Regions from separate parts of the Homo sapiens genome. Here all the other regions are reported to be linked to region 3. The links are microRNA targets in miRTarBase. Many come from high-throughput screens and were not tested one by one. Region 3 holds a microRNA gene; each other region holds the end of a gene's coding sequence.
What was found. The annotated mature microRNA hsa-miR-3132 reads UGGGUAGAGAAGGAGCUCAGAGGA and lies in region 3 at 2,637-2,660, shown strand. An mRNA with a match to its seed (bases 2 to 7 or 8) in the 3' UTR can be bound and repressed. Matches are read on the target gene's strand: a 7mer-m8 pairs with bases 2 to 8, a 7mer-A1 pairs with bases 2 to 7 and ends in A, and an 8mer does both.

Region 1: the mRNA of GNL1 is a reported target of hsa-miR-3132. Seed matches in the 3' UTR shown: 8mer at 1,399-1,406.
Region 2: the mRNA of IGSF8 is a reported target of hsa-miR-3132. Seed matches in the 3' UTR shown: 7mer-A1 at 961-967.

What each region holds. Positions count from the first base shown.
Region 1 is chr6:30,542,094-30,547,203 of GRCh38, reverse strand. It overlaps GNL1 (G protein nucleolar 1 (putative)), which reads left to right. Exons shown (of 12, transcript NM_005275.5): 10 at 1-92; 11 at 368-508; 12 at 891-5,110. The coding sequence ends at 1,132. Among named protein-coding and RNA genes, the nearest start is that of GNL1, 12 kb to the left of the region's middle.
Region 2 is chr1:160,087,353-160,092,462 of GRCh38, reverse strand. It overlaps IGSF8 (immunoglobulin superfamily member 8), which reads left to right. Exons shown (of 7, transcript NM_052868.6): 5 at 1-181; 6 at 525-655; 7 at 855-1,120. The coding sequence ends at 640. It overlaps KCNJ9 (potassium inwardly rectifying channel subfamily J member 9), which reads right to left. Exons shown (of 3, transcript NM_004983.3): 3 at 1,900-4,977. The coding sequence ends at 4,646. Among named protein-coding and RNA genes, the nearest start is that of KCNJ9, 8.4 kb to the right of the region's middle.
Region 3 is chr2:219,546,667-219,551,776 of GRCh38, reverse strand. It overlaps MIR3132 (microRNA 3132), which reads left to right and starts at 2,630; the gene lies at 2,630-2,704. It overlaps TMEM198 (transmembrane protein 198), which reads right to left. Exons shown (of 5, transcript NM_001005209.3): 3 at 3,696-4,271; 4 at 2,423-2,625; 5 at 1,182-2,060. The coding sequence ends at 1,923. OBSL1 (obscurin like cytoskeletal adaptor 1) reads left to right here. Exons shown (of 21, transcript NM_015311.3): 20 at 1-248; 21 at 935-1,049. The coding sequence ends at 942.

The DNA of each region.
Region 1 (5,110 bases), not on the chromosome of region 3:
AATTCCCGTGCAGGCCCTGCTCCACCTGCGCCACCCAGAGGCTGAGGACCCCTCAGCGGAACACCCCTGGTGTGCCTGGGACATCTGTGAAGGTGAGTTCCATGTGCCTGGCTTCGCCCCACCTGGTTTCAGCTGCTCTTCCTTACCTGCCTCGCCTTTTACCCTTCCCTGTCTCCTTTCCTCTCCTCAGAGATTCTGCCATTGATGAAGCTGCTGTCCACTCACCCCTAGATTTTTGTTGCATAGCCAGTAAGATCTCTGGCCTGGAATGTTTTGGGGAAAACTGGAAGGACTGTGTTATGGGAGTGGGAGTATAACTGGTACCTGGTTAATGCTTTCCCTTTCCATTATTCTTTTCTTCCTCCAGCCTGGGCAGAGAAACGTGGTTACAAGACAGCCAAGGCGGCTCGGAATGATGTGTACAGAGCAGCCAACAGTCTCTTGCGGCTGGCAGTGGACGGCCGCCTCAGCCTGTGTTTTCATCCCCCAGGCTACAGTGAACAGAAAGGTCAGAGCCCAGATATTCTTCCCCAGCCCCCTGCTATAGCGTAGGTAAAAGGGTGTGGGCTTTGTGGCCAGAGAGAGGGTCAAACCTGGATTCTGTACCTGTTGGCTAGCTCTGTTACTTAACATCTGTGATATTTTCCTGATCTGCAAACTGAGGGTAATAATTGACCCTTAGCATAGTGATTGTAAAGATTGAAGTTGATGTGCACAAAGGTTCTGTTCAGCAATCTGCACATAGGAAGTTGAATGAATGGATGAATGAATGAATGCCAGCAGCTCTAAAGATTATTGTTATTCCTAGTCTTTGCCTCTTCCCCATCTTTCCTTGGCTTTAGTTCTTGCTCAAAACTCTCCTCCATTTTTTTCTTGTTTTGGTTCCCCAGGCACCTGGGAGTCCCATCCAGAGACCACGGAGCTGGTGGTTTTGCAGGGCAGGGTGGGGCCAGCAGGTGACGAGGAGGAGGAGGAAGAGGAAGAGCTGAGCAGCTCCTGTGAGGAGGAGGGAGAGGAGGACCGGGATGCGGATGAGGAGGGAGAAGGGGATGAGGAGACCCCAACCTCGGCTCCAGGGTCCAGCCTGGCTGGCCGAAACCCTTATGCCCTGCTGGGTGAGGATGAGTGCTGAGTTCCTCGCCCAGCGCCATCTTCCCTCCCAGTATCTTTGCTTTTGGACTGACCTGGGGGTATCTCCCCTCTGCCACCCCAATTGTGAATAAAGATTGTTTGCTTTGTAGCCCCTTCCCCAGATGAACTGAGGTGAGAGCGGCTGTTCCAGGCTAACAGCTGTGGGAGGCTTCTCTCCTCTTCTCCCTTCTTTTTTCATGCATTCTCTTTGCAAGGGAAAGTTCTCTTAGGAGTTTAGTAGGTTCTCAGTCTCTGAAACCTGCTTCCTCTACCCATTCTCCCACTCTGCACCTTAGGAATCCCGTTATCTACATGGGGAGGGGAGGTCTAAATCCAGCTCCCTTTTGGAGTTTGTGCCATTCTCCGATTTGAGCAGCAGCCCTGTGTGCCCCCTGCCGCCAGACCTGCTCATTCCAGGAGCTTCTGGGAGAAGGAACAGTAAGAGAGGAACTGTGTCCCAAGCTGATGTCTCTTAATGAGATTTTTACAGGAATTGTTCAAATTCAGCAAATATTTATTGAGGGTCTATTGTGTGTCTTGACCTGTGCTGAGCACCAAGCATATAAGGATGTACCACCAGAGCCTGACCTAAATTTGAAGCCTGGCCATGATCAAAACCCCACCTTCAGGCACCCAAGTTTTTGGATTAAGAAGGGTGAATGATGTTCTCCAAATCCTGGGGGCTCATGCAGTATAATTCTAGGACTTCATGTTGATACAAATTTTTAGTTAAGGCAAAACGCTTGTGAAAATGTTGATTAAATGTGTACGAGTAGTTTTAATTACTGGTGAACAACTAGCGTGCACATTTATGATTTGAGCAGAACAGCCCTTTAAGTACAGTGTTAAGTTTCATTGTTTAAAAGCTTGGCAGCTACGAGTATTTGAGGTACATAGGGGCGGGCACAGAACCAGCCTCCTGAATTCCATTTACTCTGGTTTGGGGGTGGAACAAAGATGATCCAGTGCAGGGTCTGAGCTAGAACCTAGCAGGTGGCCAGAACCATTTTAGGGTTTCACCTCAGCATTTCGGCAGAAATCAGCTCTCTCGTGAGTCAGGGCACCTTAGGCTTTGCTGTATATCCCTTTGTTAAGCCAGCAGCTAGACTCCTAGATTGAATTCTTTTAGAAATGGGAGAATGAGCTTTTTTATTGACTGCCAGTGTTGTCTGTATTGGATGATAGCAAAAAGTGTAGTTGGACAGGTTGCCCACTAGATGGAGTGAGAAGTACCAGACTCCTTTTTTCTCTAAAGCAGATCCTTTCAGGATCTGAGTCACTGGGCAGTTTCTCTAATGCGAGCAGACAGACCCTGTTAACCAAGGAGCAAAGGAAAGTATATTTAAAGAGGCTAAGGTGTTTGGCCACATATTGCTTTAGGTTCATCTCCATTGGTCTCAGTGTGGACATAACTCCTGGAATTCACTCCAGTGCAAAGTTTAAATAATACCAGCATGAGAATGTACTTGAAGGTTTCCCAAAATGTGCTAGACAAGAAAGAGAAAAGGTCCCAGCTGAGAGAAAAATCCACCTGTCTCCCATCTGGGGCTCTTTGGCCTCACTGATAGAAAAGGAAAAGGGGCCCAAGCTAAGCTTACTTTGAGGGTTCATGATGTTCAGAGATGCTCAGGGGACTTCTCCGCTGCAGGAGGTGGGGTGAGGACATTGGATTCATTTCCTCAAAATATGGAGAGAAAGGAGAAAAATCAGAATTCTATTTGTACCTCTGCTTCCTGTGCTGTTTATCTTTGCTTGTCTTTATCTTTTTCCACCTCAGGGGTTTCATCAGGGGTATTTGGGAGAGTCTAGGGGTGGGGATGAAGAATTGACTGGGAGCTGAGGAGGGGGGATTTTTATGCTGAAGACCTGGCAGGAGGCAACTCCTGACACCCCCACAGGGTTAGACTGTAAAACCTCTTCCATGACTTGCTGACTCTATAGGATAATAGCAACAGGAAAAGAACTGAGGGACGTGCAGATGAGGATGAATAGGGCCCCAACACCAGTGCCTGAGGCTGAGGTTAGAACTGACTACAAAGACACAGGAAACCAAGGGCCCAGTCTCCCCTCCACGCTGAAATACGCACCCTCTTGTCTGGGTCATGTCTACTATGTGAATACTTGACCATGGAGGTCTGGGGCTCTGGTGGCTTCCATAGCTGGCTAGTCTCTTGATGGAGAGAAATCAGGGCTTCTCTCATCCATGCTGGAATTTCATTTAGATGTCAACTTCCAAGTTTCCCTTTTTCCAGATGGGATTATAGTCCTGCTTCTGGAACAGGGTAGCTGTGTGTGGTCCAGGATAGTTCAATTATCTGGCCCTTTGTTCACTTCTTACAATCATTGATACAGTCAACAAAAATTGGTTAAAAACAATATATGCCAGACATATATCCCTGAGTTCTGGGACAATAACCAAAATTGAATAAGGCAATATCCTACTCTCAAGCAATAGAGGGTAGGAATAGAATAATAATAATATAATACAATAGCTCTATAGCAGTATGTAAACTATAAAAGCATTATTTTACGTGTTTCTATTGAACTGTCATAACTAAATAAGATGGTTAGTACTATAATTATCCCAAGGATTCATTCACTCATAGAACATTTGTTGAGCAATTACTACCTGCCAGTCACTTCCAAGTGGTAAGTGAGATAGAAATGGTTCTTTGTGGCGCTCACAATTTATTGGAGAATGGAAACACAATTACAAAAAAAAAGTGTGATAAGTTCTGGGAGAAGGGTGGTACAGGATCCTGTGGGGTAGTGGTGGCTCCATATAGGAGGGACATTGGGATACTGATCAGGAAGGAGTGGGGGACAGGGCTAGAAGCTGCATTAGTATAAAGTTATGTCAGACTGCCAAAACAAAACAAACACAAAAAATCAGTAGTCTGTGGTAAAGAATTGCTATAGGAACAGCCAGTAGGGGCAGTTAAGCTGGTCTTGGTGAATCAGGGGAAGCGTCCTAGAGGAACAGATGTCCATGCTGAGGCCAAATGCTGGACAGGAGTTAGCCAGACAGGGAAATTGCATTCTGGGCAGAGGAGACAGCAAAGGTCAAGAAACATGACAACTTTGGAAGACTGTAACTTGTTCAGAGGCAGAGGGTGCAAAGGAGAAATGAGGAAAGGTGAAGCTGGAGAGGTGGGCTTGGTCCAGCTCTTGCTGGGCCTTTTCAGCCGTGTTAAAGATTTAGACTGTATCCAGAGGGATGTTGAACTTTAAGCCTAAGACTGAAAAGGTGAGAATTGTGCCTTAGATCACTATGGTTGCAGTGTGGAGACTGGTTTGGAAAGGGGAGAAATCAGAGGCTTTTACAGCCATCCCAGGGAGAGAGAATGAACACCAGAATTAGGGTAATGGAAGATGGAAAGAAGAGAAATCGTTTTATGGGTTGCTCAGGAGATAGAATTGACATGTCTTGGGATTGTTTTGCTGTGTAGGGGAGAGAGACAAGTCAAGAGTATACATCCTGTTTCTGACTTGGCAACTGGGTGGGTCATGGGTCTGTTTCCTGAGACAGTTGTCTACAGCCATACCACCGTAAGCGCCCTAAATCTCATCAGAGACAGTTTATGCAAATGGAGCTTGGGGAAAGAGAGGTCGTGGCTGGAGACAGAGATTTGGGCATCATCAACATATAGGTGTGGGGAGCAGAGAAGGCTGAGGAAGAAAGCAGGAAACATATAAAAAGGAGAGCAGGGAAAGGAGCCAGTGAGACAGGAAAAACCTAGTAACGTGGTGTGATGAAGCTAGGGGAGGAAGGAAGGAAGGAAGGGCGGCGTGGAACGCTGCTGATGGGTGGTGGCGGGGAAAATGAACGAGTATCCACCAGCAACGAGAGGGGCCTCCATGGTCTTGGTGGGAGCATTTCTTTGGAGAGGTGGAATCAGAAGCCCCAGATGTCAGAGGGTTAAGGAATAATTTGGAGGAAAAGCGTAAAGGCAGTGGAGGTGAGGAGAGAATTTTCAAA
Region 2 (5,110 bases), not on the chromosome of region 3:
CCTGTCAGCGTAGAGCTGGTGGGGCCCCGAAGCCATCGGCTGAGACTACACAGCTTGGGGCCCGAGGATGAAGGCGTGTACCACTGTGCCCCCAGCGCCTGGGTGCAGCATGCCGACTACAGCTGGTACCAGGCGGGCAGTGCCCGCTCAGGGCCTGTTACAGTCTACCCCTACATGCATGGTGAGTGACACCCCCTCCACCCTCCTCACTCTGCCTTCCTCCTGGCCTCTGCCACTGGCCTTCCCTTCCCATCTTCTGACCCTCCTGCTACTATCTCTCTCCTCCACATTATGTCACATGAAGTCTCAAAAAATCCAACTTCCAGCCCTGCAGTGCCCACCTGCACGGGGTCCTCTGTGGTTGATGCTGACTTGCATGCTGAGGGGGCAGGCTGTGGGCAGGGATGGGGGTGTCTGTGAATGGAGAAGGTGGGTTCAGAGAACTTGATGGGGAAAGCGCAGAGGCAAGTGTATGGGTGGAGGATGATGGCATCCTCTCTGAACAGTCATCCTCTCTCCCCCAGCCCTGGACACCCTATTTGTGCCTCTGCTGGTGGGTACAGGGGTGGCCCTAGTCACTGGTGCCACTGTCCTTGGTACCATCACTTGCTGCTTCATGAAGAGGCTTCGAAAACGGTGATCCCTTACTCCCCAGGTGAGGGAAAAGAACCCCCCAACCTTGTTTTCATTGGGCTTCCCACCCCCAAGTCCTGAACCAAGCTGCTCCCTCCCAGGCCCCACCTGGAGGAGGAGTAGGCAGCTCAGATCCACAGGGCCCTGTTAAGGGGTGGAGGCCGCGAGGGAGCCCCACTCAGGGCTCTCTGTCCTTAGCCCACACCGGGCACCCTTTTCAGGTCTTGCAGGTGTCGACTGTCTTCCGGCCCAGCTCCAAGCCCTCCTCTGGTTGCCTGGACACCCTCTCCCTCTGTCCACTCTTCCTTTAATTTATTTGACCTCCCACTACCCAGAATGGGAGACGTGCCTCCCCTTCCCCACTCCTTCCCTCCCAAGCCCCTCCCTCTGGCCTTCTGTTCTTGATCTCTTAGGGATCCTATAGGGAGGCCATTTCCTGTCCTGGAATTAGTTTTTCTAAAATGTGAATAAACTTGTTTTATAAAAAGCAGGCTTGGCTGTGTCTTCCCTACCATGAGACTGTAAAACGCTCAGGGTGCATAGTAGGGAGGTGGTTGGGGATTGACAACCTATTCTGGATGACCCAGGCCTCTCTTCCCACCACAAACACCATCTGGCCTCCATGGGCCATGCCACCCACCCCAGGAGGGGACACCTGGGTTCCATCTGCAGCCTGAACTGTCGGGGCTGAGACAACTCCTGATTGGACTCCTACTTGGGGAGGGAAGCATAGAAAAGGAGGGTAGGTTCCAGCTGCCTGTGGTCACCCCCGCACCAGCTTCTCCCATGTTAAAGGGCATGGGCCTCCAGGGGCAGTGCCTTTTCTGAGCTTCCCAGACTTTCCCCAACTCTTCCCACGTCTCATTCTCCTGGTCAGGCTAGTCTTGGACCTGACTCCTCCCACTAGGCCCTGGGGCTGAAATTGTTGTTCCTTCTGACCCATAGCAGCAGAATAGAAGCCTCAGAACACAACTGATACTCAGGCTGGGACAACAGGCAGTCAGGGGAGGGCCTGTGTGTCCACAGAGCCATTGCACCCACATGTACTCGCTGTACCTGCATATACCCTCTACCCGCATATACCCACTACACCTGCATATACCCGCTTCACCTGCCTGTACCTACCCTGGGGTCTCCTCCCTCCCACCCTTCAGCTTCACCCCTCCTCCAGTGCCCCAGGAGTTTCATGAATTTTCTTGCCTAAGGATTCTCTGATCCTAAAATTCTTACCTGCACGGCACCTTAAGAGGCATCTGGCAGGCCTCCTTCAGTTGTTATTTAAACATTTATTGAGCATTACGAGTTTGCTGTCATTTTTACAGATGAGGAAACTGAGGCCCAGATATGCGATTTGCCCAGAGTCATAGAGCTAATTAGCAAGTGTCAGGAGTAGGACCTAGGTCTCCTGACTTGTTGCACTGTACAGTGGTGCCCTGAGTGGTGACAGTGGCGAGGAGAGGTGTGGCAGGGTCTCAGTGACTTCAGCAGGCAGGAGGGGCCTTTCCAGACTGAGTTTCTCTGCTTGTTCAGCTGCAATGGGTTGGCTCCTGTGTGAGTGCGTGTGTGTGGATACCAAGTAGCCCACCCGCTCTTGTCCAGACCCCCCTGTTTTACTGAAACCCAAATGAATCCCCATTCTCCATCCCAACATCTGTTCTTAGGGGACCAGTCAATGCCAGGCTTCAGGAATCTCATCTTTGATGACAGGGCCCCAGTGGCCCTGTGACCTGAGGCAAAGATATCCGTGTTTTGACTGAAAGGAAGGGACTGGGACTTGGGTCCTCTCTGAGTGAACCCCAGCTGTCTGGGCTGCTTCCATGGCCCCCTTTCTTGCTTCCAGAGGACCCATAGGGCCCTGGCTATGCCCATAGGACCCTGGCTGTGCCCCATAGGACCCTATCTGCCCAGCCTGGAACAGAGAAGACTGGAGTGCTTTCCCCAGGGGGCTTATGAAAGGGCAGGAGTGGGATGTGGCCAGGGCCAAGGGAGGAGGTCCTTGCTGGGCCAGTGCTGCTGTGTGGGAGACAGGCGCTGTCCCAGGGCAGGCTCTCCTGGGCCTATGCTTTTCTCCAGGCCAGCTTCAGGTCCCTTCCACCCCTCTGCCTCTCTCAACTTGCAGTTGTTCTCCCTCACTATCCAGGAAGCTGCCGCTGGTGACTGGGATGTGATCAGGAAGCAGGTGGAGGTGGGGTGAGAATATGCGTCTTTGGGACCCCCTGGCCCAATTGGGCTGACAGCAGGCTGCAGACACATCCAGATGTTCTAACTCCTATCGCTTCTCTCCGATTTTCTCCCACATTCAATCTTGCCTCCAGTCCTACAAGGGGTTCTGTCCTTTGCCCCTAAAACTCTTCCTGCTCCACCTCCCCCCGACCTCCCCAGGAGCCCCCTCAAGTCCTTCTGATGGCTTCATCTCTCTGTCGGGCCTGCTCAGCTTCCAGACACCCCCTCCACTTGTCACTGCCCTGTTTCCATTGATGGTTGAGTTTCTGGGCCCAAAGTTAAACTCTTCAGCCTGGGCTTCGGGTCCCTTTCCCACACATAAAACCCCACCCTTCACATTTCTCTGTCTGCTCCTGTGAGGATCCTCAGCTTCTTCTCAGCTTCTCTTCATCTTCCTCTCAGCTACTCCTCAGTTTCTATGCCCCATGTCCTGAAACGACTTCCAAGTATTCACTTAGAGCACAGGTTCTCAAAGTGTGGTCCTCAGTCCAGCAACAGCAGCATGACCTGGGGACTTCTTAGGAATGCATGGTTTTGGTCCCCACCTCTTGGGTCAGAAACCCTTGGAGTGGAGCCCAAAAATCTGTGTTTTACCAAGCCCTCCAGGTGATTCCAACGCACACTGGAGATTTCTAACTCCTGACTTACATATTCCCTATGCCTTACACTGGCCCCAGCCTTCTGATCACCCACACTCCCCTACCCTCCACGGGACTGCACAGGTTGTCAGTTTGAATTATCCCTCGTTCAGTCACCACAGGTAGATTCCTCTGTTTTCCCAGGTGCCCCTTATTTTGAGGACAGGAACCAGGTTTTTGAATGTCCACTCCACATGGCACCCAATCAGTGATGTGAATGACTGTGCCCCAAGGACACACTGCTTTCCTAGGGGCTCCCTGTTTCCCAGCTCTAGTGAACCCACTTTCTAGATCTCTCTCCTGGCCCTTCCTCCCCAGAACCTCTCTCTCTCTCTTCCTGCCTGTGCCTGATACCTGTAAGATCTCACTCCACTGTAAGAAAATAGCTATCCCTGGTTTTCCTTTCCCAGGCCCCTCTCCAGGCCCCAGCTCAGGCACCTCCCCGCTCTGCCTGCTTCCCTGAACTTGCGGACTAAGGTCATTCACACCTTGCTGAGCCCCTTGCACGCCTTCATCCTGGTGAGGGTGGAGCTAGGAGGGCACCCTCCTCATGTGCCCATCTTGGTCCGGCTCCTTTCTCCTTCACTTCAGCTTGGCCTACCGTGTCATTAGACAGTTGTGCCATATGTGGGGAGGCTGGCAGAAGAGGTGACTGGGGACTGCAATCCATCCTATACTCTGCTCCCCAAGCCATGCACCCTGGTTTGGGGCTGTATCTGTCTGGAGGAAAAGGGTTCCTTTTTAAAATTTGCACAGGGGTGTTCTACAGGTTAGTGGCAGCCCTGAGTGGACCAGTTGTCTACTGGTCCATCTATGTATCTGTCAGCTGTCTTTATCTGCTACCATCTTCCCATCCAACCCCCAAAAGTCCATCATTCTGTCCATCCATCCACTCATGAACAAATGTGAAGGTCAAACACAGACTGGCATTTTCACCCGGCCCCACCCTCCATTTCCCTGAAATCAGGACCCCTCCCTTCCATACTGGTTTCTAGACTTGAGGTTCTGGGGGACGGGGACTTTCCAACTTTAGCACATTTCCAGGGGCTTTGCCTTCCTCCTCCTCCTCCTCCTCCACCACCTCCGATATGCAGTTCCCCATGTATCTGTGTCTGGCCCCCGGTCTGCCACAGGGGTCTGGAGGAAGCTGGTCACACCTTGGACTCACTCTCTGGGGGTGGCAGGCAGCCATTCTGCTCCTTGTCAGCCCCAGCTTCCCCACCCGCCCCCTCCCCCGCCCCCTCCTCCTCCACCTTCTCATCCAGCCGGCTGGGGATGGACCAGTAGAGATGGGCATCAAGGCGGGCGGCAGCCTCTGCCAGCTCTCGAGCACTGCACGAAGGTGTGGGCACCTCAAAAGTCTCGTGAAAGCTGGCATAGTCCACTTCGTAGAAGCCGTCCTCCAGAGTCAGCACTGACGTGAAGCGGTGGCCCCACAGCACCTCGTCTACCAGGTAGGAGCTCCGAGCTTGGCATGTCATTCCTGGGAGGAGGGGCACCGGTCAGGGGGAATCTCAGCTCCAGGCTTCCCTCTCCTCTTCTCATTCCACAACCCTACTCCCAGCACCCTCCCTTCTATTCCTTCCTAAGGGCTCCCACCTCCCTTTGGTCCAGTC
Region 3 (5,110 bases):
CCACCCCCCTCGCGAGAAGACCGTTCTGGTGGGCCGCCGGGCGGTGCTGGAGGTGACTGTGTCCCGCTCGGGGGGCCACGTGTGCTGGCTGCGGGAGGGGGCCGAGCTGTGCCCGGGAGATAAGTATGAGATGCGCAGCCACGGCCCCACCCACAGCCTGGTCATCCATGACGTTCGACCTGAGGACCAAGGCACTTACTGCTGCCAGGCCGGCCAGGACAGCACCCACACACGGCTGCTGGTAGAGGGTGAGTAAAGCCAACTGGGCAGCGGCAGGAGGGTGAGGGCGCCTGGGAGCTGATGGGTTAAGCCACACCTATGGGAGGCTTTCCAGAACTTGGGGTGGCAACGGGTCCTGGGATACGTAGGAGGTGGGGATGGGGGAGGGGAGGGGTAGAGCACACCCAGGGCTGGAAAGCCCTGGAACTGCTTGGCTCAGATCAGCTGCTCCTGGTCAGCTGTTCCCACCTTTCTACGCCCCTTCTTGCCAGGCTTCTCCTCTCTCCTGCCACTGGACCATGTTTGTCTCTCTTGAACAGCCCTGTTTCTACCAGTTCCTTTCCTCCCCACTTCACCAACACTGCCTTCCTCCAGCCTGTCCCTCCTCCTTCCTGCCCTCTGCCCAGCTTGCCTCTGCCCATCTCAGCAAGTTCCATGTCAGCCTTGGCAGAAGCCTCTTTCTTTCCTCTTCCCCATAAGAGACATCCCACCTTCTATCCCAAATCCCAGCATTCCCTTCAGGTGCCGCGCTGTGCCCCACCCCTAGCTGACCCCCACCTTCCTGCCGCCAAGACAGCCCTAACCAAGGCCCAGAAAGGGTAGGGCAGAACCTGGGGGCCCAGCTCTTTGTGTACTGGTGTCCAGGCTCTGCCAGGGGAGAGGAAGGTGGTACCCCCTTCTCTCCCCAGCCCCATGTGGAGTCATTCCTCTGCAGGCAACTAGGAGAACCTAACCAGGCCAGGCGGGTGCCCTTGGACAGCTTGGAAGGCGTTTGCCCTTACCCTGGGCAGGGGTAGAGAGACAAGGAACAATAAAAGTGCTACAGCTCATTTCCTTGCCTCTCTGAGTGATGTGGGGGGGCAGACCTTGCCTGGAGCCCCTGTGCAGTGAGCGACACTGGGGACCGAGGGCTGTAGTGCTTGTACCTGGCCCATGAAAGTGCCAGCCACCAAAGACCACCATTCCTGGCAGAGGCCACACAGTTTGGCACATTTATAAAAGATGTAAAACAGAGTGGGGTGGGGGAGACAGAAGCATGAGGTGTCTAGGTTGGCATGACAGACACCAGACATGCACCGTGCATTTAAACCCCTCCCCAACTCCCTTCCCAACCCAGCCCAGAGCAGCACCCCCCCACCCCCATCTCCTGCCACTGCCCTCAGGCTGGTGGCTTTACAGAGGCCAGGGGACCAGGGTGAGGGATGCTACAGTTTGCCCCATAGACAAGGACAAGAACCCTTAGATGAGTCTGGCTGCGAGGCAGGGCGATGGGAAGGAAGGTAGCCCCTCCGCGGAGACATGCAGGAGGTGGCCCATGGGACCTTGGCAGGGAGTGAAGAGGTGGGGCTGAGCCTGGAGAAACCCTACCAGTCAGAAATCTAAGGCAAGGGTCCCAGCGTCCCCTCCAAGCCTGCCCACCCCCACACACATACACACAGACACACGGGCAACACACTCACAACCCTGAGCACACCCCAATGGGGTTCACACCCCGAGTTCCTCAGGAGCCTCTTGGGAGCTTGGGAGGGGGCTTTCCTCTCAGGCCAAGACTCGCCTGAGACAATCCTCCCTTCTAGTGACCAGGCCAGCCCTCTCCAGGCTGGGGAGAGGGACAGCCAAAGCCAGGAGGCTGAGTGGCAGCCTAGCAGGCCTCCTCGAGCTGGCAGAGCTGGTGACTGCAGAGTCTAGACAGACAGATATGGCTATACCCGCACTGGGGGGCCTGAGCAGGCTGTCAGAGGTCCCCGGGACCCATACTCATAGTCCGCATCTGTGGGTGAGGCCATGAAGGAGCTCAGGGAGCTCCCGGTCTGCCGGTCTCGGAAGCTCTGGATATAGCTCTGTGGGGGAGCAAACATAGGTGTGAGTCCCACCGCAGAATCCTGCCCTAAAAGCCACCTCTTCCTGAATTCCCACAAGCCTGACACTTCTATAGACTGCCATAGACCCAGAGTCCACAGCCCTGAGACCCCACCACATACCATATCCCACTTAAAACCCATACTCAGGAACCTTTCCCCCAATTCCCCCACCAGCTGGACCCGCCAAGCCCCTGGTGCATGGGCTCCGATGCATGGACAAACAGTTCATGGACAAACAGGCCTTCTAGATAGCAACCAGCCCGTGGGGAAAGCCCAGTCCTGTTTGGAAAGAGTTTCCACACTTCCTTCTCATTCTGGCTGGATGGGCTCAGGGAGCTCACCGGGGAGAGGACGTCTCCATTGAAGCGTTTGATGGGCACTGGCCTGCGCCGATAAGCAGGGTCTGGTGGCCCAGGCCTGGGAGGAGCCCGGGGACCTCTGAGGGGAGCCCGAGGAGGTCTCTTTTTCCGCCTTTTCTCCTTGCGATCTTCCTGCTGCCGAATCCGCATCAGTTGCACGCGTCGGCGCTGCCGGCTGATGACCACTGTGGTGGGATGGGTAGAGAAGGAGCTCAGAGGACGGTGCGCCTTGTTTCCCTTGAGCCCTCCCTCTCTCATCCCACCTGTGGCTCTAGGCTTCCAGATTCCTCTTGTCCATAACCCCTTACTCCCACCCTGTCACTTCCTTTCCTGGTCTCCTACCTCTCAGAGGAGACTTCCCGCTGTTGTTCTTTTCTTCCATAGGTCTTTATGGAAGGTTGCTAGGCTTCCAGGTACCCCCTTCCAGGCTGTCATCCCTCTCCCAATCACCTAGGCCAGCCATCATCATCTTTCCACTGGACAATCACAGCTGCTTCTTCACTGGTTTCCCCCTACACTTGCTCCCTCCAATGCTTTCTACACTCGGCAGCAGAATGAGCATCCCAAAAGCTAAATTAGATTCTATCCTCCCCTACTTTAAACTCTCCAGTGGTTTAAAGTCTTATTGCCCTTCTAATAAAATGTGGAGTGCTTCTTATGACCCAGAGGGTCCACGCAATCACTCTGGCTCCCACACCTCACCTCCCATACTCCTGCCCCACTTCCTCAAGCAAGCTGAGCTCATTCCTTCTCAGGGCCCTCGCCCTTGCTGTTCCCTCTTCTCTAGCTCTTTGCATGGCTGGCCCCTTAGCCTTCAAGTGCCTGCTTACATATCACCTCCTTCAAGCAGCCTTCCCTGACCACCCTAACTCTAATAGCTTCCATAGGTCATTCTTTCACATTATCCTGCACAATGTCTCTGTCATATCACTCTACACAACTGGAATCATGTTTGTTTGCATCTCTGTTATCTGTCTCCTGCCTGCCTTGAATCCATAAGGACAGGAACCTTGTCTGTGTTATCTCTGCTGTATCCCTGGTGCCTGGAATGGGGTTGGTGCGGAGCCAGCACTCCATATGTTGTTGTGGAATGAATGATGGCACCTGGGTGCTATCCTCCCAGACCCTGAGCAAGTCAGCTCTCTACCGCCATCGAGGCCTTCTGCTGCTGTCCCCCACTCCCCAGTCACTTGGCCCCCAACCCATCCCTGGCCACCCACTCCTCTCATGTCCACCTTGGCCTGTGCCCCCTTACCTTCCGTGTGGGAGTCCCCCTCAGCTGTCACCCTCCACTGCACCAGAACGCCCATCAGGCTGAGCAGGGGCCAGAGTGCCAGCAGGGCCCAGCTTCGCCAGCAGAGTGGGGGCACAGGAGCAGCCCGGAGTCGCTCCACCACGTAGCGCCCCAGCAGTAGCAGCTCGGCGAAGTAGTCAGCGGCAGTGGCGATCAGCGCAGCACCAGTCACGGCGGTGGCCAGGGTGGTGAGTGGGCGGGGCCAGCGCAGAGTGAGCAGGGCACAGAGCAGGCCGCCCCCCAGCAACAGCCCCAGTGGACCCCACACGGAGCCTGGCTGGTAGTAGGGTGCGGAGCCCAGCAGGGCAGCAGCTGCGAGCAGCAGGCCGAGCAGCAGCCCCACCAGGAAGAGGCCCACGCTGCGCACTAGCATGGCCACCAGCCCGCAGAGCAGCCCGATGCCCAGAGCGATGCCCGCGCTCGCCCCAGCACTCAGCTGTGTCTCTAGCACCCGCTCTCGGTAGCAGAGGAGGAAGATGACCACCGAGCCAAACAGCAACCCAGTGAGAAAGAGCACTGCCTTGAAGCAGCGGTAACCTGGAGGGGAACAGGGGCTAGTGAGGGGCCAAGATGAGGGCACCAGGCTGGAGGGAGCAGGTCCAAGGGGTCAAGGACATGGGATCCCAGGGGAACCAGAGACAAAGACACTAAGATCAGAGAATTGAGGGTCACTGGAGTCATGACGGCATCAGTGATGGGGCCATTGAGGTCAGGGGAGGTTAGAGAGATATGGCTGTTGGTGGTCAATGGGAAGGCAAACATAACCATTGAGATCATGAGGGTTGATGTATTTGAGGATCACAGGAGTTAGGATAAATCTTTTGAGTCAAGAGTGAATTCGTGCATTGGTGTCTTTGGGATCATAGGAGTCAGAGAGAGAAGTCACTGGGGTCCCAAGGGGATCAGAAAAAGAGTCATTGGGGTCTTTGAGAAGGGATTGCTCACAGAGATGAGGTATTTGGAAATCATAATAAACTCGAGGGCCGGGCGTGGTGGCAGCACTATGGGAGGCCAAGGCGGGTGAATCATGAGGTCAGGAGTTTGAGACCAGCCTGACCAACGCGGTGAAACCCCGTCTCTACTAAAAATACGAAAAATTAGCCGGGCATGGTGGCACGCACCTGTAATCCCAGCTACTCAGGAGGCTGAGGCAGGAGAATCGCTTGAACCCAGGAGGCAGAGGTTGCAGTGCACCAAGATCGCACCATTGCATTCCAGCCTGGGTGACAGAGCGAGACTCTTGTCTCAAAAAAAAAAAAAAAAAGAAACTTGAGAGGTGAGGGTCACACAGGTTCAGAAAGATGAGTCTTTGGGGGTCACAGGGCTTCAGAGATAATGGCACCACTGAAAGGTTACAAAGAGGACAGAGTAGCAGC